Homo sapiens: one gene and its partners. The protein of the gene in region 1 interacts with the protein of each later gene in a pairwise test. Each region holds a gene or a part of one and is shown in the gene's direction. Other genes may lie near its edges. The genes, in order: SPATC1L, PARN, ZBTB4, MISP, TRMO, PIAS2 and NUTF2.

Region 1 (3,500 bases):
GCCTTTATTTTGAGCCTATTTGTGTTATTGCATGTGAGATGGGTCTCTTGAAGACAGCATACCAATGGGTCTTGGTTCTTTATCTAGCTTGCCATTCTGTTTTTTTTTTTTTTTTGTTTTGTTTTTTGAGACAGAGTCTTGCTCTGTCTCCCAGGCAGGCTGGAGTGCAGTAGCACAATCTCGGCTCACTGCAACCTCTGCCTCCTAGGTTCAAGTGATTCTCCTGCCTCAGCCTCCCAAGTAGCTGGAATTATAGGCACCCAACACCATGCCTGGCTAATTTTTCTATTTTTTAGTAGAGATGGGTTTTCATCATGTTGGCCAGGCTGGTCTTGAACTCCTGGCCTCAAGTGATTCACCTGCTTCAGCCTCTCAAAGTGCTGGGATTACAGACATGAGCCACCATGCCTGGTCTGTTTGATGACCTTGAGGTTTTGATTGTGGTATAAGGTGGATTCAGCCAACTGGCTTCATTTATGGAATATTTAAGGGGCCAGTGCCCAGCTGCCAACTCCTGGACTCTGCATGCTCTAGCTCTGGGGGACTTGTTTTGGGCCCTGACTTTGTTCTCTGGCTCCTTGAGGTTTGGAATCCACTGCACTGGGGGGCTGAGGTACTGCAGCTACAGCAGAGTGGCTGGCAGATGCAGAGTGCCTGCCTTCCTGTGGGGGTTCACCACAGTGGTGGAGGCAAAGCAGCTGGGGTGGGGATGGGGGGCTCCTGTTGGAGACTGTGTGCAGTTACTCTGGAGGTACTATAGGCATGGGTGGGGTGCTGGTTGGCACAGGTCTAGGTGCCTTTTCTGTGCCCTGCAAGCAGGAGTGATCGCTCAGGGTGGGGGAGGATCCACTGTTCTCTGCTCAGTGTTAGGTCAAAGGCAGGGTTCTGGCGGGTATGGGGCTTGCTGGCTCTGTGTCTGCCAAGGCTTCACCTGCAATGGAAGTCTGTAGGGAAAGGGGAGGCCCACTGGACTCCTGCATGCTGGTGGGGGAAGGAAATCAAAACCCACCTGTGCAGACATCAGCAGAGTGATGTGGGGAGTTGCCTGGGCCCAGGGGAAGCTACAATATGAGGAGGGAGCAGGCAGGCTGGTGTGTGGCCGTCGGGGCTGTCTCACTGGAGCTCTCCACTGGCCAGGCACAGTCTGCTGGCACAGAAGCTATGGTGAAGACCCCCAGGGCACCCAAGACTGCCCTGCAAGCAGGCATGGCCAGGCTGGGGCCCCAGGAGAGGCCAGCAGACGAAGGGGTGCTCAGGTTGGACTGGTCCCATCTGATGGGTAAGACCACCCTGCAGAGAACAGGTCTGACAGTTCCCCTAGGTCCAAAGTCTCCTGTGGGAGCAAATCAAGCCTGGGGGACGGCCGTCCCTGGCTGTGTTCCTGCACCAGACCCTCTGGGTTCTGCTTCAGCTGGCTGCTGCCCCCATCACTTCTCTAAGCAGCTCTCCCTGCCAACTAGAGTGTCCATGGTGGGCAAGGGGTCTCCCCCAGCTGGGGTTCCAGAGGCCCATGGCAACAGTGGGTTGCTCCTTGCCCGTTTAACTCCCCCATTTCCCCAGAGCTGTTGTGGGTCCAAAAATGAGCACCAGTGCTCAGTAGTCCCAGGCAGGTTCCCAGCTTTCTCCCCTTCAGCCCAGCTTCTGTGTGCTCCCTCCATCTGCCCTCAGCACCTTCCCTCTGAAGATGTGTTAGAAGCTCACCAGTCATCTCAGGCCCTCCGTGGGAGCTGTATCATCTGGCTGCATCTGGCCGGCCATCCCGCCCTTCCAATCCACATGAACTTCTTATTTCTGTCTTTGTCCTTATTACTCAGAACTCGGGCCTTGGCCTTGACTTTCATGGGGCCTCCTCCAGGGAAGGTGAGAGAGGGTTTTGGCCGCATCCTGGTCCTCCTGACCAGCTGTGGGAAGGACCAACGGTCCCATCTGCCCAGAGGAGGGAGGTTTGCACAGGCTGGATGCTGTGGAAGAGTCCTTCCTGTTCTTATTTTTGGAAAACAGAAAATTTGAGAAATGGCTCATCTTGTTCGGTGTTTGTGAGCCTATCTCTGTACCAGTGGAGGTATCTCAGCTTCTTGCCAGGGACCGTATCTGGTATCTTGCTACGCTGCACAGCCACTGGGTTCTGCACACCCTGCCTCTTGCTCTCCACCCCACCGCCTCGTGCTCTGCACACACCCCTGCCTCATGCTCTCCACCCCCATCTTGTGCTCTGCACACCTCCCCGCTTTGTGCTCTGCACAACCCCCGCCTCACGCTCTGTGCATCCTCCGCCTCACGCTCTGTGCATCCCCCGCCTCACGCTCTTTGCATCCCCCACCTCACACTCTGTGCATCCCCCGCCTCATGCTCTGCACTCCTGCCTCATGCTCTGTGCATCCCCCGCCTCATGCTCTGCACTCCTGCCTCATGCTCTGTGCACACTCCTGCCTCGTGCTGTGTGTTCTTGATCATGTTTGGATGAGACTTTGTGCAATTATTTTTGGCCTGGCCATGGTTTTTTTTTTTTTTTTTTTTTTTCTGGGGGTTATCTTTGTAGGAATTTGACATCAGAGTTGTGACAAATTTTGAAACCTAATTGAGCATCTTTTAACCTGTTCTACGGTTCCAGCCTCATTTGTATGATGTCGGGATTATGACTTGTTTGGGAACTTGGCACACTCACCCACAGACCATCCAGGCCTGCAGCCCTCTGGGGAATAATCATTTCATAACTTTTAGATTTTCCTTCTTTGTGTATTGGTTCATTTAGGTTTTCTACTTCTTATTGAGTCACTTGAAAGTAATTTTCCAGGCTATCTCCTTTTATTGAAATTTTAATTAATACATAATTGTACATAATATTCTTTTATAATTTGAAAAGTGTCTGGGGTGGGGGGTCTGTGAAGCCTGAGGACTCCAGGCCTCCCACGTGGCAGGAGGCCGGGCACACGCTGATGACTTTGCTTCTTTCGAACTTTTTTTCCTTGGAAAACATTTCAGAGGGAAGATTAGTTGGTTCCTTTGTAGGCACATTTTTTTTTTTTTTTTTGAGATGGATTCTTGCTCTGTCGCCCAGGCTGGATTGCAGTGGCACGATCTTGGCTCACTGCAAGCTCCAGTAGGCACATTTTAAGGTATAATTTTTTGATATGGCTCCGAACACTTTCTCTAATATGTATTTGCTTTATTGCTAGGAGAATACACATGACATGGAGGTAGAATAGAATTTCATAAGCCATAAAGGCATAGATAAGCTAAATTTGGCCAGGGATTGGGGAAATGCCACATGACCTCATCAGCCTGGTTGGGGAATATTCAGTCCTCATGAGGGTGTGGGGCCAGGAGGTGTTGGTGGGCATGGACCCTCCCCCTTGGTGTGGAAAGCAAAGAAAGTGAACACACCTGAGCCCAGCGTCAGACCACAGAGGATGTTCACAGAGCAGGAGGCTCCTCCCCATCCACAAAGGATGTTCACAGAGCAGGAGGCTCCTCCCCATCCACAGAGGATGTTTACAGAG
Region 2 (3,500 bases), on another chromosome or scaffold:
TGTTAACAAACGTTGGGAATTCCGTTTTTGTGGCACAATGTCACCTCCTAAGTCTCCTTTTATCTTATCCCAGGTATATAACGAAGTCATTTAACTTCTATGTTTTCCCGAAACCCTTCAATAGATCCTCACCAGATGTCAAATTTGTTTGTCAGGTAAGTAGCATAATTGAGATTTTTCTTTTCTGAATTGCTGATGAGGCAGCATGGAAATGTGAAATCAGAATTTGGTTCTCTATTAACTTTGGGCTTTGGGGCAAATCATTTCACCTTTGACCTTCAGTTTTAGGGTAATAAATTCATGACCCTGTTATCTCCTCCTTTGCTGTAGAATGAATTAAGGAGGGCCAGGTACGGCGGCTCATGCCTATAATCCCAGCACTTTGGGAGGCCGGGGAGGGCGGATCATGAGGTCAGGAGATCGAGACCATCCTGGCTAACATGGTGAAACCCTGTCTCTACTAAAAATACAAAAAAAAAAATTTGCCGAGTGTGGTCATGGGTGCCTGTAATCCCAGCTACTTAGGGAGGCTGAGGCAGGAGAATGGCGTGAACCTGGGAGGTGGAGGTTGCAGTGAGCCGAGATCACGCCCCTGCACTCCAGCTTGGGCAACAGAGCGAGACTCTGGCTCAAAAAAAAAAAAAAGAATGAATTAAGGAATAAGATGCAGAGACAGACAGACAGATATGAGAACATGAGGTTTAGTAATTCTAAAGCTGAATTTGAGAACATAGTTTCGTAACTCCATTTGGGATTTTTATTATTTTACCCCCAAGTTGAACCACCTACACATCAAGACTTGCAGGCTTCTTGGCTGGATGTGGTGGTTTACACCTGTAATCCTAGCAGTTTTGGAGGCCAAGACGGGAGAATCACTTGAGCTCAGGAGTCTGAGACCAGCCTGGGCATAAAATAGTGAAACCTCATCTCTATTTTAAAATAAAAATTAAAATAAACAAAAGACTTGGAGGCTTCTCCCTATCCTCACTCATTCTCCTCGCATCCACTCTGAGGGTGTAGACCTTTATTTTCTGGAAAAGCAGAGTATGTGTGTATCCTATGCAAAAAGAGAAAGCGCAGAAGGGGTTCAAGTATTTATGCTGACTTCCTTTTCTCAAGCTCACTAATTAGGAAAGGGGGGTAGAAAAAAAAACTACTGTTTCTCTTGAGGAGAAGAGAGCTTAATTGATGGGTCAATATTAGGGAGGTTCTCCTTCAGGATATTCCCTCTAGAGGTGTTGTAGCTGACCTGGTAGACACTCAGTAAATATCACTGTTTCCTTTCTGCTCTTTTGATTATCTGTTGTAATGGATAAGGAGAATGTGAGTAAGGGGTATGGTTGTGTGGCTATGTGATTAAAGATAAGTCTTAATCTTTTCTCCCTTAAAATCTTGCATCCTATCTTCTCTCCCACTAAAAACATGAATTCATTTGAGTCTTGCCATCTTTCCCTTCTCTTGCAGATTAATGGTAATGCAGTTATGAAAGCCTCGAGGGTAGGCTTCAAGTGATTGAGTTATGTCAAATTCTTTCTCAAAACTGGCAGTATATAAACAAATGAAATCGAGAGTTAATCATATGCTTATGGGCAAAAGAGAAAAGGTGAAGGTTAAATTCTGGTCTTATAGACAGTTTCCTAAATTAGCAAGTAAACCAGTTGACATTTTACCTTTACCCTGCAATCAGTTAATAGCTATTTGTCAATCACCGTGGTATGGGATACTTAAAGAGTATTTATAAATTTTCTTTTCTTTTTTTTCTTGAGATGAAGTTTCGCTCTTCTTGTCCAGGCTAGAGTGTGATGGCATGATCTAGGCTCACTGTAACCTCTGCCTCCTGGGTGGAAGCGATTCTCCTGCCTCAGCCTCCCGAGTAGCTGGGATTACAGGCATGCACCAAGATGCTCAGCTAATTTTGTATTTTTGGTAGAGGTGAGGCTTCTCCATGTTGATCAGGCTGGTCTCGAACTCTCGACCCCAGGTGATCTGCCCGGCTTGGCCTCCCAAAGTGCTGAGCCACCGCACCCGGCCTTACAGTTTTGTTTTGTTTTGTTTTTTTTTTGGTAAATTTTCATTGAGGGAAAAGTAGGCTCAGTTGGGAAATTTGTGTGGATATAGTTTTCTAGCAGTACCAGCAACACAGAATTATTTAAAGTGGGTTCCATGGCTTTGGCCAGGGGTTAATCAAACAAAAGCAGAGGGTGGCAATGAGACACCTTGGGGATGGCACTTTGTTCTTTTTTTTTTGAGATGGAGTTTCGCTCTTGTTGCCCAGGCTAAAGCCCCGGGTTTAAGTGATTCTCCTGCGTCAGCCTCCTGAGTAGCTGTTATTACAGGCATGCACCATCACGCCGGCTTATTTTATATTTTTAGTAGAGATAGGGTTTTTCCATGTTGGTCAGGCTGGTCTTGAAATCCCGACCTCAGGTGATCCTCCCATCTTGGCCTCCCAAAGTGCTGGGATTACAGGCATGCACCACCACACCGGCTAATTTTATATTTTTAGTAGAGATGGGGTTTCTCCATGTCGGTCGGGCTGGTCTCAAACTCCTGACCTCAGGTGATCCTCCCACTTTGGCCTCCCAAAGTGCTAGGGTTACAGGCGTAAGCCACCACATCTGGCCGATGGCACTCTGTTCTAAACAACCAAGACAAAACTGGTTATTTTGAGAAATGTATTGGAAACAGATCAGAGGAACTTCACCCATTGTACAAACCATGATTGTACACCTGGAATACTTAATACAGTTGTAGTTGCCAGCCACTCCTTTAAAAAAAGCTATCATAGACTTGAAGATAGCCCAGAGAGTAATGTCTAAAACAGATGAATAAAAATGCCGGGATTCTCTAGTGTGGAAAAGCAAAGGCAGAGAAAAGGTTTAGACTCTAAATTTGGGAATTGTATGAAAAGGTTAATGTATTTTTGGATTTTCTTTGGTCTCTCATTTAAGGTTTTTGTTTTATTTAAAATTCTATAGTTGTAGCAGAGTTGCATACAAGGGCATTAGTTTCTGGAGTTATTAAGTAGGGTGAAAATTGGGTCAAAATCTCTCTCAGAAAGCTCTTATCACCCTTAAAGCATATAGGATTTGAGGATACAACAATTTAATATGTTCTTTAAAAAATAAGACCCTGTGTGCGCAGTGAGATGCTCCCATATGCTTGTCAAGATGTGGAGGAATGGGCTGACAGAACCACACTCACACCCAGAAGAGTGTGTTTGTAGAATAGTAGGGCAGTCAGCATAGCATGACATTTACATCATTTTTGTCTTCTCCTTTTTCTTTTCTTCCTCTTCCTTTTTCAGGCTGAAGATCTGTAGTTGAATTCATAGAAGGTATTTTATATATATGGTTGTGAAAAATTGAAGCATAACTGCTGTATGTAGAGTAACAGATGTGTTTCTTTTCTTTTTTTTTTTTTTGAGATGGAGCCTTACACTGTCGCCCAGGCTGGAGTGCAGTGGTGTGATTTCGGCTCACTGCAACCTCTGCCTCCTG
Region 3 (3,500 bases), on another chromosome or scaffold:
CACCATGCCTGGCTAATTTTTTTTTTATTATTATTTTTAGTAGAGATCGCCACATTGGCCAGGCTGGTCTAGAACTCCTGACCTCAGATGATCCGCCCGCCTTGGCCTCCCAAAGTGCTGGGATTACGGGCATGAGCCACCGTGCCCGGCCTTAAAGAGGGAAAGTGGCCAGGCATGGAGGCTCACGCCCATAATCCCAGCACTTTGGGAGGCCTAGGTAGGCAGGTCACAAGGTCAGGAGATCAAGATTACCCTGGCTAACACGGTGAAACCCTGTCTCTACTAAAAATACAAAAAATTAGCCAGGCATGGCGGCGGACGCCTGTAATCCCAGCTACTCAAGAAGCTGAGGCTGGAGAATCGCTTGAACCTAGGAGGCGGGGGTTGCAGTGAGCTGAGATTGCACCACTGCATTCCAGTCTGGGCGCAGAGCGAGACTCCATCTCAAAACAAATAAATAAAATTTAAAAGGAGGGAAAGCTAACTGCTACCTTTCAGGGTAGTGATAAGGAACAAATGAGGTAATCCAAATAAAACACTGACTCTTGGGGTCCCGGTGAGCCAGTGGTTCTCATGGAGGCGAGTAGGAGGCCTGGGCATCAGCCTGTGAATGCAGTGAGGCCCCTTCCGCAGGATGCCTGACCTACGACCTACCTGAAATTCACCAACTGACAGGGCAACACTTGACCCAGAACCTCATCAGTCCCTGGCAGACAGGGTTGTTAAAACTTTGGAATATCATCCCTGTTTACCATCTTCCTTCTTCCCATCCAGGAGAGGTGTCAGGAAAATATTTTGGGGGATGTGAAATGGGGTATATGTGGGGAAAAGGCCTTTGAGTCCAGACAGTATGAGTGATAAATGGGAAAGAAGATTTTTCAGGGGATGGGAATTGTATGAGGAACTCCTGATGCCGGACACCTCTGAAGACACGTGGCCCACGGCATACGGAAGGACACCCTCAAAGATGGGTGACAGCTCCCAGGCTTTGTGGAGGGCAGAGGAGAGGGTCCGGAGAGCTCTGCTCTCAAGTCTGCGGGCCTGGATCTCTAAATAGGTGCCGCCTGTCATTACCAGCGCTGTGTGACTTTGGATAAGTCTGGCTTTTGAACTCAAACCTTCAACTGAAAAGAGTCTTCAAGGCCCTGATGGTGCCTGCAGGGGAAGGTGGCTGCGCGGTGCTTTCTCTGCTGCTGACTGCCTGAGCTTGCGTTTCAGTTGTCTGCTCTTCCCTTTGTTTTTTGGGGGGTTTTTTTTTGAGACGGAGTTTTGCTCTTGTTGCCCAGGCTGGAGTGCAGTGGCGTGACCTCGTCTCACTGCAACCTCCAGCTCCCAGGTTCAAGTGATTCTCCTGCCTCAGCCTCCCAAGTAGCTGGGATTACAGGCACGTGCCACCACGCCCGGCTAATTTTTTGTATTTTTAGTAGAGATGTGGGTTTCACCATGTTGGTCAGGCTGGTCTTGAACTCCTGACCTCAGGTGATCCACCCCTCTTGGCCTCCCAAACTGCTGGGATTACGGGCGTGAGCCCCCGCGCCTGGCCTTGCTCTTCCCTCTGGACGAGTCTCCCAGCAAGAGGTGAGGTAGGAGTTGTGATTCTGCCGCTTTTTAAGTCCAGATCCCTAGGGCATCAGGTCTCTGAGTAAGGCGTGGGACCAGGCCTCCTGGTCTTGTGGCCTTTCCAGTGCCCTCCAGAGGCTGGAGCAAGCTGGCAGTTGTGTATGGGTCAGTGGTCTTCAATGGTTGCCTGGCAGCTGCGCCAGAAACCCCCTTCTAAGATTTATGGGGCTGGAAGGATGTGAGGATGTCCTCTCCTAATTTGAATATCTACCAGCTTAGGTCCAATTTTTAAAAACTCACAAATTATTTTGATATGTAAATGAGACCATTGTGATAAATGACAACATGCAAATCTTTGACTTCCTCTGAGCCCTGGAGATTGGGCCAAAGGGACTTGAGAGTGCTGTGACAGGCTTCCCTGAACCTATGGACTGGACCTGTGCTACTATATTGTTTGGAGGTGAATTGGGAATATGCAAATTATCTTGTCACTGTACTTCTCTGGGCCCGCAGAACAAGGCTCTGCAATAATCTGCGTGACCTCCCAGGTTTGACTGGACACAGCTAAACAAATAACCTGGCAGAGGCTCCGGGGAGGGGTCTGGGCTCACCCAGGTGTCCTCTCTGGCCACAGTACTGCACCCCTCCCCACTTCCTGGGGGCTTTTCCTCTCACTTCCCTCCTTGAGGACCCTCTTCTGCTCCTCCTCTAGGTTCCCCTGACATAATTTCTGTTTCTCCGCAGAAGGAAGAGGCCCAGCAGAAGGGACTCGCTGAGCCACCCCCCGCCCCACTCCATGTTGGCTGTGCTCTCAGGTGAGAAGGTACCCAGAGGCCTACAGTGAGGACAAAGTAGACCCAAGGCAGCAGGCCAGCAGGGGCGGCCATTTTGTCTAGGCTGGGGAGTTCTGTGAAATGGCTATCAGGAGTTGTGGAGCTTCCTCCTCCTTCCCATGAGAGAGATTTGCCTCACTTACATCTCTAGTCTGTGACTTCAGAGGTCATGACCCCTTGACCTTCACCATGACCTGAGGTATCTCTGGCCTCTTCCAGCCTCAGAAGTGAGTTAGACATACTGGTCTTGGATGCTGGCCAGACTTGGGTGGCTAAGGGCCAACCCCTGACTTCTGTGACCAGAAGTGATTCAGCCTTCCACTAGTTTCTGACCAGCAGCTCCTGATCCTCTCTCTGCCTGATTTTAGAAGCCCCTGCCCTCTGCCCAGCCTCTGAGACTCTACCCGGCCTCTTCTCCCACTGTCTAGGCTGGCACCATGCCCCCCCCTGCAGAGGTGACGGACCCGTCCCATGCCCCCGCCGTCCTGCGCCAGCTCAATGAACAGCGGCTCCGTGGCCTCTTCTGTGACGTCACCCTCATAGCCGGAGACACCAAGTTCCCTGCTCACCGCAGCGTCCTGGCTGCTTCAAGTCCCTTCTTCAGAGAGGCCCTGCTCACTTCAGCCCCACTACCCCTTCCACCAGCTACTGGGGGCGCCGCACCCAACCCTGCCACCACCACAGCTGCCTCTTCCTCCTCCTCCTCTTCCTCGTCTTCTTCCTCTTCTTCCTCCTCTGCTTCTTCTTCTTCTTCCTCTTCCTCTTCCTCTCCCCCTCCAGCCTCTCCCCCTGCTTCTTCCCCACCCCGGGTCCTGGAGTTGCCAGGAGTCCCAGCAGCTGCGTTTTCTGATGTCCTCAACTTCATCTACAGCGCCCGGCTCGCACTGCCTGGTGGTGGAGGGGACGGGGCAGCTGTAGCAGAGATTGGAGCTTTGGGGCGCCGTCTGGGCATCTCCCGCCTTCAGGGCCTGGGGGAGGGAGGTGATGCCTGGGTACCTCCTACCCCAGCCCCCATGGCCACCTCGCAGCCTGAAGAGGACAGCTTTGGGCCCGGGCCCAGGCCAGCTGGGGAGTGGGAGGGTGACAGGGCTGAGGCCCAGGCCCCTG
Region 4 (3,500 bases), on another chromosome or scaffold:
CACAACCCCAGGGGCCAGCCAGGCCCCCAAGGCCTTCAACAAGCCCCACCTGGCCAACGGGCACGTGGTTCCCATCAAGCCCCAGGTGAAGGGGGTGGTCAGGGAAGAGAACAAGGTGCGTGCTGTGCCCACCTGGGCCAGTGTCCAAGTTGTGGATGACCCTGGCTCCTTGGCCTCAGTGGAGTCCCCGGGGACCCCCAAGGAGACGCCCATCGAGCGGGAGATCCGTCTGGCTCAGGAGCGTGAGGCAGACCTGCGAGAGCAGAGGGGGCTTCGGCAGGCAACCGACCACCAGGAGCTGGTGGAAATCCCCACCAGGCCGCTGCTGACCAAGCTGAGCCTGATCACAGCCCCACGGCGGGAGAGAGGGCGCCCGTCCCTCTACGTGCAGCGGGACATAGTACAGGAGACACAGCGTGAGGAAGACCACCGGCGGGAGGGCCTGCACGTGGGCCGGGCGTCCACACCCGACTGGGTCTCGGAGGGTCCCCAGCCCGGACTCCGGAGAGCCCTCAGCTCAGATTCCATCCTCAGCCCGGCCCCAGATGCCCGTGCGGCCGACCCAGCTCCAGAAGTGAGGAAGGTGAACCGCATCCCACCTGATGCCTACCAGCCGTACCTGAGCCCCGGGACCCCCCAGCTAGAATTCTCAGCCTTCGGAGCATTCGGCAAGCCCAGCAGTCTCTCCACAGCGGAGGCCAAGGCTGCGACTTCACCAAAGGCCACGATGTCCCCGAGGCATCTCTCAGAATCCTCTGGAAAACCCCTGAGCACAAAGCAAGAGGCATCGAAGCCCCCTCGGGGATGCCCGCAAGCCAACAGGGGTGTCGTGCGGTGGGAGTACTTCCGCCTGCGTCCTCTGCGGTTCAGGGCCCCAGACGAGCCCCAGCAGGCCCAAGTCCCCCATGTCTGGGGCTGGGAGGTGGCTGGGGCCCCTGCACTGAGGCTGCAGAAGTCCCAGTCATCTGATCTGCTGGAAAGGGAGAGGGAGAGTGTCCTGCGCCGGGAGCAAGAGGTGGCAGAGGAGCGGAGAAATGCTCTCTTCCCAGAGGTCTTCTCCCCAACGCCAGATGAGAACTCTGACCAGAACTCCAGGAGCTCCTCCCAGGCATCCGGTGAGAAGGGGCTCCAGGGAGTGGCTGCTTGGCTCAGGGTCTCAGAGGTTGGAGCAGGGGAGGGTGGGGAGGTGGAGTTTGAGGCTGTCAAAGGGCTGGGGTTGGGGAGACATTGCCTCCTGACTGTTCATCCCCTCAGTCGCTGGTTTGTCTGCCTGTCTATTAAAAATGTAGATTTTGGAGAGAAATGTCAACTTTACCTTAGGGCTTTTGCTTTATGGATTTGGATGCCTTGTTGTTAGGCGCATAAATGTTCATATATGTTTTGTGTGTTTTGTTTTTGTTTTTGTTTTTTGTTTTTCGGTTTTCTTTTTTGAGACGGAGTCTCGCTCTGTCGCCCAGGCTGGAGTGCAGTGGCAGGATCTCAACTCACTGTAACCTCCACCTCCTGGGTTCAAGCGATTCTCCTGCCTCAGCCTCCTGAGTAGCTGGGATTACAGGTGCCCACCACCACTCCCGGCTAATTTTTGTATTTTTAGTAGAGACAGGTTTCATCATGTTGGCCAGGCTGGTCTTGAACTCCTGACCTCAGGCGATCCACCCTGCCTTGGCCTCCCAAAGTGCTGGGATTACAAGCATGAGCCACTGCTCCCGGCCTGTTCATATATGTTTATCCTCTTGGACAGTTGCACCTTTTTGACAATATGAAATATTCCTTGTGTCACTTTTAATGTTTTTTTTTTTTTTTTTTGAGATGGAGTCTCGCTCTGTCACCCAGGCTGGAGTGCAGTGGCGCGATCTCGGCTCACTGCAAGCTCCGCCTCCCGGGTTCACGCCATTCTCTCGCCTCAGCCTCCTGAGTAGCTGGGACTACAGGCGCCTGCCTCCACGCCTGGCTAATTTTTTTGTATTTTTAGTAGAGATGGGGTTTCACCGTGTTAGCCAGGACGGTCTCGATCTCCTGACCTCGTGATCCACCCACCTCGGCCTCCCAAAGTGCTGGGATTACAGGCGTGAGCCACCGCGCCCGGCCACTTTTAATGTTCTTCACCTTGCATGTCGGCCCATCTGTGCATCCAGTTTCTCCTGACTGGCTACTTTGGTCAATCTGTCAGTTTCCCGGATAGTCATCTGCTCTGTCTGTCCATACATCTGTCTCCTTAGCTGCTGGCTAGAGACTCTGTCTCCCGAGCAGAGGTCTGACAAATGTTCTAATGTTCTGCCCTCCCTGCTCCCCTACAGGCATCACGGGCAGTTACTCGGTGTCTGAGTCTCCCTTCTTCAGCCCCATCCACCTACACTCAAACGTGGCGTGGACAGTGGAAGATCCAGTGGACAGTGCTCCTCCCGGGCAGAGAAAGAAGGAGCAATGGGTGAGTCTGGAACCCGTCTCTGCAGAGGCCAGGCTGAGGTCAGACAGCCCCTATTAGGGCCACAGGAAGTTCAAGCAGGACTCAAGCCTGACCTGGGTTCAAGCACTACCCCCACCCCTGGCCGTGCCTCAGTCTCCTGCAGATGTCAGGTAGAAGATGATAAACTTGGTGTCCTTGTATCTCTGGGCTTCTGCTTGGAGAGGCCATATAAGCTGGGGTCTTTGTCCCCATCAGGAGGTCATCTCCAGGATCAAAGACCAAAGGACCAACTCTGCTTGGAGGAGGAGGACACTGGCAATTTGTCATCGTCACCAGCATTAGTTTCTTTTTTTTTTTTTTTTTTTGAGACGGAGTCTCACTCTGTCGCCCAGGCTGGAGTGCAGTAGCACGATCTCGGCTCACTGCAACCTCCACCTCCCGGGTTGAAGTGATTCTCCTGCCTCAGCCTCCTGAGTAGCTGGGATTACAGGCGTGCACCACCACGCCCGGCTAATTTTTTTGTATTTTTAGTAGAGACGTGGTTTCACCATGTTAGCCAGGCTGGTCTCAAACCGATCTCAAGTGACCTGCCCACTTGGGCCTCCCAAAGTGCTGGGATTATAGGCATGAGCCACTGCACCTGGCCACAGATATTTACTTCTAAGAAAGAGAGAGAGAGAGAGAGAAGGCAGGAGGGAGGGAGGGATGGAGGGAAGGAAGGAACAAAGCGAGGAAGGAAGGGAGGGAGGGAGAGGGAGAGACGGAGGGATGTGTCTGTCACACGCTGGCTCGGGGCTTCCAATGAACCACACCTTTAGCACCCTGGTGGTCTCACATGCCCAGGGTTAGGCAGCTCATGAACCCAGGCTTGACTCCAGGACCTACAGGCCACAGAGCTTTGCCTTAGGGGTTTTACTTTATGAATTTTGATGCCTTGTTGTTAGACATGTAATTGTTCATGTATGTTTATCCTCTTGGATGAGAGCTCCTTTTGTCAGTATGAAATATTCCTCACGTCACTTTTAATGACACGAGGAATATTTAGTGCCATGAGGAATATTATGTCCTTTTTTTTTTTTTTTTTTTTTTGAGA
Region 5 (3,500 bases), on another chromosome or scaffold:
CCTGGGTGACAGAGTGAGACTCCATCAAAAAGAAGAAGCTGGTTGCCAAGGAGATGTCAGATTGCAAAAAGCTGTTCTTTGTGTTACAACTCAGTAAGGAGCCAGCATAACCATATAAAGAGGGAAGTTCATTTATTCATTCTACAGTTGTTTACTGAGCTTCTGCTAGGTACCAGACATTGGTCTAGGTTCTTGGAATACATCAGTGAACAAAACAGATATAAAAAACCCCTGCTGTCATGGAGCTTGCATTCTAATGGGGAGGAGAGAGACAAATTAAAAGTATAATAAGCAATCAAGTTATTAGACCAAACATATTCAACATTATATAATATTAGAAGGTGATAAGAGTTACTGAAAAATTTAAGAATACAGCAGGCTTGGAGTGTTGTTACTATTTTATTTTATTTTTGAGACAGGGTCTCACTCTGTCACCCAGACTGGAGTGCAGTGGCAAGAACATGGCTTACTGCAGCCTCAGCCTTCCGGGCTCAAGCAGTCCTCCCACCTCAGCCTTCTGTGTAGCTGGGACTACAGGTGTGCACCACAACACCTGGCTAATATTTTGATTTTTTTTTTTTTTTTTTTTGAGACGGAGTCTCGCTCTGTCGCCCAGGCTGGAGTGCAATGGCTCGATCTCGGCTCACTGCAAGCTCCGCCTCCCGGGTTCACACCATTCACCTGCCTCCGCCTCCCGAGTAGCTGGGACTACAGGCGCCCGCCACCACACCCAGCTAATTTTTTGTATTTTTAGTAGAGACTGAGTTTCACCGTGTTAGGCAGGATGGTCTCGATCTCCTGACCTTGTGATTCCCCCGCCTTGGCCTCCCAAAGTGTCCAGATTACAGGTGTGAGCCACCGTGCCCAACCTATTTTGAATTTTTAAAGAGACGGGGTCTCATTTTGTTGCCCAGACTTGTCTTGAACTCTTGGGGGTCAGGGGATCCTCTGTCTCAGCCTCCCAAAGTGCAGGGATTACAGGTGTGAGCCACTGCACCTAGCCTGTTGCAATTTTAAATAGGTGGCCCCAGTGGGCCTCACTGAGAAAGACACATATGAGCAAAGGTCAAAGAGGTGAAGACATGAGCCAGCCTGTCCAGAGAAAGGACATGCTGGCCTGAGGGACAGCCAGTGCACAGCCGCAAAGTGGAGGGTGCATGGCACGTTTGAGGTCATGTGGTCAGAGTGGACTGAGGAGGGCTGAGCGGAAGGATATGAGGTCAAAGAGGCACTAGAAAAGGGACGAGGTCACCTAAGGGTTTTATAGGCCATTGTAAGGACTTGAGTTTTGATCTTGGGAGAAGTAAAAGGCAGAGGAACTTGATGTCCGTATCCCCAGAGAGCAGGGGACCATCTCTGGGGTCAGATCACTACCTGTGTGATTTCTGGGATGTCACACCTCAGTGACATGCAAAGGCAAGCTGGAGTTCCTTATTGAGACAATGAAGACTTTCATTCTATATCCAGAAAATAAAGGCTTACACAACCAAAGATACTAGATTTTCCCCTGCTTTACTAGCAGGGAGAGAATGAAGAGGCTAGGGGGGTATTTGGCTTTGATAATCCAACCTGAAGGAGGTTTTTCTGATGGGAAAAAGAAGTCTAAAAGTTGGGACTGGAGATACATGCCAACTGACTCTGAGATTTCCCCATTTCTTCCTGTCAGAGCCACAGCCAGCCCACACTGTTGCCTTTTGCAAAGGAAAAGCCACCCCTTCCTCTGGGTGGAGGCAGCCACCTGCCAGGGCCCAGGAACTGGTTTTAGCCCCAACATGCAAACTTCAGCCAAGTGCCGTATGCAGGGCACCCCCTGCACTTCTGGACACGGCAGTCTCGTGGTCATGAGTGGTGATGCCACTTGAGGGTTGTGCTTCTCTTTGGCTCCTAAGGCTTTACTTTTAAACAAAGCTTTTGATTTTAAAATTGATCTTTTTATTTTTAAAAGTTTTGTTGATAGAAATCATTACATCACTGTATACAGTTGATGGGAGGAGGCTGGTCAGTTGTAAAAGGATTTTATGGTGGAACAAAACAGTCCTGCCTTCTAGACACTTTATGCTTACCACTTGTCCTGTGGTTATTGTCTAATGCAAACTACTATGGAAAGTTTTGTTTTTCTTTCTTTTCTTTTTTCTTTCTTTCTTTTTTTTTTTTTTTTTGAGACGGAGTCTTACTCTGTCACCCAGGCTGGAGTGTAGTGACGCGATCTCGGCTCACCGCAACCGCCTCCTCCCGGGTTCAAGCGATTCTCCTCCCTCAGCCTCCTGAGTAGCTGGGATTACAGGCGTGAGCCACCACACCCAGCCTGGAAAGTTTTGTTTTTTAAACTGCAGTGCAGTATGTGTCAGATGTTTGAAATATGCCTTACTGATTAAAAAAATGATTAAAATGAGAAATTACGCAGTGTAACTACAAAACAGGAACTGATTGATAGCAAACAGCAAAATTCAGAGCTGTTGCAGAAATAAGAAGTGACTTCAGGAAGTTCTGAGTCTAGAAGAGGTTAAAGGTGTTGAAATGGGAGGAAGTTTGGTGCTGGAGTAAAGGTCTGGGCAGAGTGCTGTGGGCACTCTGAGAGGAGAATCCTGACTTGTGTCTGGGAGGGAGTGTGGAAGGAAACAGTGCTTGAGCTGAGCCTGGCAGGATGAGTAGGCAGGGAATTGGGGGAAGGCACCCATGCCAGATAAACGGCCAAGCAGAGGCCTGGAGCCTCTCCCAGAAACGCCGTCACAGGGGAGTGTGATGAGCTCTCCTCATTTTTGAGTGGCCTTCAGAGCCATTTTCTATGAGCCATGCAGTAAAGGAACCTTATTGCCATATAATTGATTTTTTTTTTTTTTTTTGAGATACAGTCTCTTTCTGTCACCCAGGCTGGAGTGCAGTGGTGCAATCTTGGCTCACTGCAACCTCCACCTCCCGGGTTCAAGTGATCCTCCTGCCTCCTGAGTAGCTAGAATTACAGGCGTGCGCCACCATACCTGGCTAATTTTTTTGTGTGTGTGTATTTTTAGTAGAGATGGCGTTTCACCATGTTGGTCAGGCTGGTCTCAAATTTCTGACCTTGTGAGCCTCCTGCCTTGGCCTCCCAAAGTGCTGGGATTACAGGTGTGAGCCACCGTGCCCAGCCCATATAATTGATTTTTGACTAAAAATTGTACTTCATGGCTTTATTTACCCAACCTGCTTATTAGATATGGCCCACAGTGATTTTTGGCTGCTTGTAGAAATCAAATCCACTCCAAGAGGGATAAAGATCCACTGCCACCACAGATGATATTTTGAGCAGGGACAGTGTTTTTAAGATCTGTACCTTCCTGGAAGGGGCATTTGGATGTATGTGATGTTGTAGTTATGAAAAACTAGGTCACAGTTACTTTCTAAATTTATGTTTTATACATACCATATTAAAAATAAAATACATTAAAAATCCTACAAACATAGGAAGTTTTGCTGTTTCTTAGGGACACAGATGTGAGAGAGTCCCAAAGCAAAGGGATGTT
Region 6 (3,500 bases), on another chromosome or scaffold:
TCCTTTGCCAAATAATGTTATCACTGGAAATATGAGATATGAGACCTCCTAGAAATTCCTCTGAGAGTCAAGCTTAGGTAGGATGACTTTGTGCTTTGTTTTGTCATTTCTGTAAAATAGCTTCCCTTAAAATGAAGAATATCTGACAATAAGTATAAGGAGTGAAGCAAAGTAGTGAATTCTGAGTTAGAAAAAATCAGTTATGTTTTATCTGTGTGATTGCCTTTTTTAGTATTAGTGTTCCACAATCAATTGAAGTATTTACTAAGATTGAGGGAAAGATGCATCGTATTACTTGCTTGGGTAAACCCTTCCCAAGAAGCTGTTGTCTTCTGTTTAATGCATGAGATGTTGAGTAAGCTGTGACTGGTTTGTTATGAGATAGGCCAAAAGTTTTCTTGTTTTCCTTCTTTGTTGTCTGCACTGTAGAGGTAACACACATTGTGGTATGTGTTCTATTAGAGTATGATTTAGAGCTACCACAGTGTGGTAGCTAGTGGCCACATGTGGCTCTTAAGCACTTGAAATGTGGTTAGTCCAAATTTAGATGTATTGTAAGTGTAAAATATACACCAGATATTGAAGACTTAGTATAAAAAAAATCCCACTGACACTTTAAAAAATGATTATTTTTAAATTACAAAAATTGATTGCATGTTGAGATGAAAAGATAGTTTTGATATATTGGGTTAAATAACTATGTTAATGTAAATTATCATTATTATTATTATTATTTTTGAGACAGTCTTAATATTGCCTAGGCTGGAATATGGTGGTGTGATCACAGTTCACTGTAGCCTCAAATTCCTGGGCTCAAGTGATCCTCTCGCCTCAGTCTCCTGAGTGGCTTGGACCACAGGCACACACACCACCATGGCTGGCTAATTTTTAAATTTTTGTGGAGACGGGGTGTTAGTATGTTGTCCAGTGTGGTCTCGAACTCCTGGGCTCAAGTGATCCTCTTGTGTTGGCCTCCAAAAGCACTGGGATTATAGGTGTGAGCCACTGTTCCTGGCCTAAATTAGTTTTTTTAATGTGACTACTAGGAGGTTTAATGTGTGTCTTCTATTAATTTGTGTTGGACAGCACTGAATTAGAGTATAAAATGGCTTGCCAGGATTACAATTTAATATTCTCTCACTTGTACATTATGAAATATAGAGACATATATAGTACACAAAGTACAGTTATGACAGTGTATATGGATTACTTTGGCATATTTAAATCTGTTTGCATTTTAGTAAACTAGCAAGTATTTATACCAACAAGTATTTAAAAACCATATAGGGTTTTAAACAGTTGCTTCTGGGCCGTCCCTGAGACTTAAAAAGTACAGAGCAACTGCCCCACATTTCCACTATACTGATGAGACAAGCAGGTTGAAAAGGAATCCCAAGTGACTGTGGAGTGTGTAGCACGGGCTGGGTTGGGGGAGTGATGAGGATGGGATGGGACACCAAACCACAGGTAGTTCTCCTGGGTAGGTTTCTGACAGGGCTTTGGTCAGCTCCAGGTGTTCTTCCTCTTTCTTGCTAGATGATGCATGTGTGGTATCTGACCCAAGTGTGATTTGCCTCTGAGTTCAGAATTGACTGGAAATCACTAAGTAGGTGGATTCCTGAGGCTGCAAGGGGTTAAAAATATTCATTAAGTTTTGCTGAAAAAATAGAAGGTGTGATGTGAAGCTGCAACTGCTTATAACCTTTGTTTTACGCCCAAGCACAAGCCAGTAGAGTAGTGTGGAGGAAATGTTGCCCTTTAAGATTGATGACTGCTCATTTCCTTGCTCTTCAAAGGTCTTTTTCTCATTTGGATACCCAGCTGGGAATTTCAGTTGTTTTAGAAGTTTGACTGCTAAATAAGATGTATGTGATTTTTTAGCTTTAATATTTTAAAATATCTTTATTATGTTGTTTGTTTGTTAATGTTTGAATTGGGGTAAAAAATTCATTGCATTTTGGATCACAGTTCTGACTTGATTTTTATGGATTTACTACTCAGCATCAAAAGTTACACATCTAACATTGTGAAAATCTGATTTTTTGTTTGGTTAATTGGCGATAATTCTGTAACAAACATTACATTGTATATTGGGAGGGGTTGGTTTTGAAAAGGAGTATATTCATTGGTGATAGATTTTATAGTCATAAAGCAAATAACTGTTTGCATTAGAGCATAATCAGATAATGAAGTGGTTAGTAGAAACCAATAGACTATAGATTACCAAAATTAAGATCTTGTACAACAAAATATAATTAACACCGTAACTTGAATGTAATTTTTACGGGATTGTCTTATGAATGGTAATGATTCTAAGTGGTATGTGAAATGCTGTTACTAGCACATGCCAATTGATAGAATGCTGGAAAAATCACATTTTACATTATATTTTAGATAGGATTTTTGTATGCTTGAGGGTGACTTGGCTTATGTTTTTTTTTCTTTCCTTTTAGAATATGGTTTCTAGTTTTAGGGTTTCTGAACTACAAGTATTACTAGGCTTTGCTGGACGGAATAAAAGTGGACGCAAGCATGACCTCCTGATGAGGGCGCTGCATTTATTGAAGAGCGGCTGCAGCCCTGCGGTTCAGATTAAAATCCGAGAATTGTATAGACGCCGATATCCACGAACTCTTGAAGGACTTTCTGATTTATCCACAATCAAATCATCGGTTTTCAGTTTGGATGGTGGCTCATCACCTGTAGAACCTGACTTGGCCGTGGCTGGAATCCACTCGTTGCCTTCCACTTCAGTTACACCTCACTCACCATCCTCTCCTGTTGGTTCTGTGCTGCTTCAAGATACTAAGCCCACATTTGAGATGCAGCAGCCATCTCCCCCAATTCCTCCTGTCCATCCTGATGTGCAGTTAAAAAATCTGCCCTTTTATGATGTCCTTGATGTTCTCATCAAGCCCACGAGTTTAGGTAAGTGTTTGAGAATTCAGTTTCTTCTGAACAAGATAGTAAATGAAATGAGAGACCTTCAACTATTGATTAATGATGTGCTGTTAATATAGTGAAATTGAGGCATCAATGCCGAATGTTTGAATATACGGATAAAAATTCGGCAACCATGACTGAAATCTAATAGAAGCTTTATTTCATATCATTTGATCTTTCTTCTTCTCCAATTCTTTTATTGTAAAATACACATAATATAAAATGTATCATCTTGATCATTTTAAAGTGTACAGTTGAGTGGTGTTAAGTATGTTGGTAATGTTGTGCAGCCATCACTGCCATCCATCTCCAGAACTCTTTTCATCTTCTGAAGCTGAAACTCTGTACCCATTAAACAATAGCCTTCCTCTCCTCCTCTCCCACTAGCCCCTGGCAGTTACCATTCTACTTCCACTGTCTATGATTTTGACTATTCCAAGTACCTCATGTCGTTGGAATCATACAGTATTTGTCTTGTGACTGGCTTATTTCACTAAATGTAATGTCCTCAAGGTTCTAGCATGCTGTAGTTTATGTTAGAATTTCTTTCCTTTTAA
Region 7 (3,500 bases), on another chromosome or scaffold:
CAGCATCCTCCACCTTCTGGGTTCAAGAGATTCTCCTGCCTTAGCCTCCCAAGTAGTTGGGACTACTGGCTCCTGCCACCATGCTTGGCTAATTTTTGTATTTTTAGTAGAGACAGGGTTTCATCATATTGGCCAGGCTGGTCTCGAACTCCTGACTTTGTGATCTGCCCACTCAGCCTTCCAAAGTGCTGGGATTCCAGGCATGAGCCATTGTGCCTGGCCACACCTGCTAATTTTTATATTCTATTTTTTAGTTTTTGTGGAGACAAAAGTCTCACTATCTTGCCCAGGCTGGTCTTGAACTCTGGGCTCAAGCAATCCTCCTGCCTCAGCCTCCCAAAGTCCTGGGATTACAGATGTGAGCCACTGTGCCCAGCCAAGTTTTACAACTTCTTGTAGAGACGGGATCTCACTGTGTTGCCCAGGCTGGTCTCAGAACTCTTGAGCTCAGGTGATCCTCCTGCCTCAACCTCCCAAGTACTGGGATTATAGGGAACAGCCACCACGCCTGGCCTGTTGTGCATGGCCTTCTTTTTGAGATGGAGTTTCGCTCTGTCACCTAGGCTAGAGTGCAGTAGCATGATCTCAGCTCACTACAGCCTCTGCCTTCCAGGTTCAAGCAATTCTCCTGCCTCAGCCTCTCAAGTAGCTGGGACTACAGGCACGCGCCACCACGCCCAGCTAAATTTTGTATTTTTAGTAAAGATGGGGTTTCACCATGTTGGTTAGGATGATCTTGATCTCTTGAACTCTTGGTCTGCCCGCCTTGGCCTCCCAAAATGCTGGGATTACAGGCGTGAGCCACTGCTTGCCTGGCCTGTGCGAGGCCTTCTAGTCCCCTGCTTGGAGCATGGGTTTGTGGCTTCTCCTCCTTTCACTGAGACCCTCCTATGGTCACTTTAAGTGCCCAATAGTTGTTCCTGTGGTGGTACCCATCAGGGCATCTTCCCAGGCACCAGACAGGAATTCTCCACAGAGGTGGGAGGTTCAGCAGACCTGGTCAGGGAGGCTCCTTGGATGTTCCTTCAACAGATGGCCCTTGCCTGGGGGCTTACAGAGGGAAACAGGAGACAGCAGGGACTTTGGAAATACCAATAGCGCTTGTTTTAGAATCCAATTCAGACCATTTTCGTTGAGGCCTCCAGGACAGAGGAATAGTCCTTTTGGGGCAAGGGGAGTGAATCCTAAAAGTTTTCCACAGAATAGACATTGAAAGTTGGGCATGATTTCTTGGCCGGGCACAGAGGCTCACACCTGTAATCCCAGCACTTTGGGAGGCCAAGGTGGGTGGATCATCTGAGGTCAGGAGTTTGAGACCAACCTGGCCAATATGGCAAAACCCCGTCTCTACCAAGATTCCAAAAAATTAGCAGGGCATGGTGGCAGGTACCTGTAATCCCAGCTACACGGGAGGCAAGAGAATTGCTTGAACCTGGGAGGCGGAGGTTGCGGTGAGCCAAGATCGCGCCACTGCACTCCAGCCTGGGCGACAAAGGGAGATCTCTGTCTTTAAAAAAAAAAGTTGGGCAGGATTTCTTTAAGCTGAGGTTGAGCCGAACCTTGTGCTGGGTGCTGGTTTGTTTTTTTTTTTAATTAATGTTTTGATAGGGCATTTGAGAATGATGTTTGTGTGTTTGCAGTTCAGTTTGAGTTGGCTACCCCTTTCCTGGCTTTGTGATTCTGTGATTCTCTCTTCCTTTGATCATATATGGCAGGAATTCTTGAGTCCCTCCCTCGGGGAGCCAGCAGTGTATGGATTATCCTTGGAGTGACTTAGGTCATGTGATATTATTCACCCTCTTTTTCCTCACCCTATCAGCTGGAGTGTGCCCTCCTGGGCAGAATGCTTTGCTTGGGTCTGGGTTTGGCTGGGAACGTGTCTTAGTGGCCAAGGGAGAGGGACACGAGGCCCAGGGTGGCCTGCCTAGGGGCCACAGGGCTCCTACTGCTGGCTGACCAGTGGCCAAGAACTTCTTTTCATTGTCTGGGGCGTTACTCATTTGTTGCTGTACCTGCTGTGTGCCAGCTCCTTAAGCCCCCAGGCTGGAGACAGGGCTGCTATGGGGATAGGGAACCCTTATTAGAGAGGGGTTTCTGGGGTACCTGGGAACTGAGGGCTGTTTGTCCCAGTGTCCTCAGTAAACTGGGGGAATTTTGGAATGTTTGTTTCTTAAAGTCTCGAATGATTCCATCAGAGCCAGTGGGTCTCCCGAGGGCAGAAACTGGAAAGCTTGCTGCCCCAGGAAAGAGCTCTGTGTGGAGATACTGGTTCCACTTGCAGGTGGTTTCAGGACTAGGAGAATGCAAATTCTCAGTTGTCCTAAGGTGTAAAGCTGCTTTGACCTGCTGAGTAGGTGCTCAGGTTCTTCCATTCTGAGGCTCCATGGAGCTTGCTGATTTCATAGGGGAAGACAAGGCCTGGGCTGCATTCCTTGCCACCCGATTTTTTTTTGGCGGGGGGGGGGGATGGGGGAAATGAGAATAACTTTATTTCATTGCGGGGAGTGGGCAGATGTCCAGCCTCAGAACTTCTGGAACTGCTTCTTGGTGCCAGCGGCCTTGGTGACCTTGAGCACGTTGAAGCGTACTGTCTTGCTCAGGGGCCGGCACTCACCCACTGTTACGATGTGGCCAATCTGGACGTCCCTGAAGAAGGTGGACAGGTGTATGGACATGTTCTTGTAACACCTGATTTTGTCACTTAGGTGCTTTCTGCTACTCCACATTGGCTCTCAGCTGTTTGCATCTCGGCCAGTTTTTTTTTGTTGTTGTTGTTTTTTGAGACAGTCTCGCTCTGTCGCCTAGGCTGGAGTGCCGTGGTGTGATCTCAGCTCACTGCAACCTCCACCTCCCAGGTTCAAGCAATTCTCTGCCTCAGCCTCCTGAGTAGCTGGGATTACAGGCACCCACCACCACGCCTGGCAAATTTTTATATTTTTAATAGAGACAGGGTTTCACCATCTTGGCCAGGCTGGTCTTGAATTCCTGACTTCATGATCCACCTGCCTCGGCCTCCCAAAGTGCTGGGATTACAGGCGTGAGCCACCATCCCTGGCCCAGTTTTTTTTTTTTTTTGCTTTTGTTTTCCTTTTTGAGTCGGAGTTTTGCTCTCGTTGCCCAGGCTGGAGTGCAGTGGCGTGATCCTGGCTCACTGCAACCTCTGCCTCCTGGGTTCAAGCAATTATCCTGCCTCAGCATGCGGAGTAGCTGGGATTACAGGCGCCTGCCACCACACATGGCCAATTTTTTGTATTTTTTATAGGGATGGGGTTTCATCATGTTGGCCAGGCTGGTCTCAAACTCCTGACCTTAGGTGATCTACTTGCCTTGGCCTCCCAAAGTGCTGGGTTTACAGGCATGAGCCACTGTGCCCGGCCCCATCTCGGCCAGTTTTGTGGACATTCTAATGCTGGCTATGCCAGTGGCCTTTTGTGGTCTTAAATTCTTTCTTAACCTCTTGGAGTCTTTGTTTCCTTGTCTATAAAGTGAAGATAATCATA

What was found.
Region 2: the proteins of SPATC1L (region 1) and PARN interact in a two-hybrid assay, tested with the Homo sapiens proteins (one large-scale study listed by BioGRID and IntAct).
Region 3: the proteins of SPATC1L (region 1) and ZBTB4 interact in a two-hybrid assay, tested with the Homo sapiens proteins (one large-scale study listed by BioGRID and IntAct).
Region 4: the proteins of SPATC1L (region 1) and MISP interact in binary tests that used the Homo sapiens proteins (3 or more experiments, as listed by UniProt).
Region 5: the proteins of SPATC1L (region 1) and TRMO interact in binary tests that used the Homo sapiens proteins (3 or more experiments, as listed by UniProt).
Region 6: the proteins of SPATC1L (region 1) and PIAS2 interact in binary tests that used the Homo sapiens proteins (3 or more experiments, as listed by UniProt).
Region 7: the proteins of SPATC1L (region 1) and NUTF2 interact in binary tests that used the Homo sapiens proteins (3 or more experiments, as listed by UniProt).

Annotation. Positions count from the first base shown.
Region 1 is NC_000021.9:46,170,960-46,174,459, reverse strand, and holds part of SPATC1L (speriolin-like protein), read left to right. Parts: intron 1-3,500.
Region 2 is NC_000016.10:14,623,761-14,627,260, reverse strand, and holds part of PARN (poly(A)-specific ribonuclease PARN), read left to right. Parts: intron 1-73; coding exon 74-155; intron 156-3,500. UniProt on the Homo sapiens protein: 3'-exoribonuclease that has a preference for poly(A) tails of mRNAs, thereby efficiently degrading poly(A) tails.
Region 3 is NC_000017.11:7,466,132-7,469,631, reverse strand, and holds part of ZBTB4 (zinc finger and BTB domain-containing protein 4), read left to right. Parts: intron 1-2,304; 5' UTR 2,305-2,375; intron 2,376-2,821; 5' UTR 2,822-2,830; coding exon 2,831-3,500. UniProt on the Homo sapiens protein: Transcriptional repressor with bimodal DNA-binding specificity. Represses transcription in a methyl-CpG-dependent manner.
Region 4 is NC_000019.10:757,612-761,111, forward strand, and holds part of MISP (mitotic interactor and substrate of PLK1), read left to right. Parts: coding exon 1-1,115; intron 1,116-2,297; coding exon 2,298-2,428; intron 2,429-3,500. UniProt on the Homo sapiens protein: Plays a role in mitotic spindle orientation and mitotic progression.
Region 5 is NC_000009.12:97,905,501-97,909,000, reverse strand, and holds part of TRMO (tRNA (adenine(37)-N6)-methyltransferase), read left to right. Parts: intron 1-3,500. UniProt on the Homo sapiens protein: S-adenosyl-L-methionine-dependent methyltransferase responsible for the addition of the methyl group in the formation of N6-methyl-N6-threonylcarbamoyladenosine at position 37 (m(6)t(6)A37) of the tRNA anticodon loop of tRNA(Ser)(GCU).
Region 6 is NC_000018.10:46,890,008-46,893,507, reverse strand, and holds part of PIAS2 (E3 SUMO-protein ligase PIAS2), read left to right. Parts: exon of another isoform or gene 1-77; intron 78-2,453; coding exon 2,454-2,928; intron 2,929-3,500. UniProt on the Homo sapiens protein: Functions as an E3-type small ubiquitin-like modifier (SUMO) ligase, stabilizing the interaction between UBE2I and the substrate, and as a SUMO-tethering factor.
Region 7 is NC_000016.10:67,853,433-67,856,932, forward strand, and holds part of NUTF2 (nuclear transport factor 2), read left to right. Parts: intron 1-3,500. UniProt on the Homo sapiens protein: Mediates the import of GDP-bound RAN from the cytoplasm into the nucleus which is essential for the function of RAN in cargo receptor-mediated nucleocytoplasmic transport.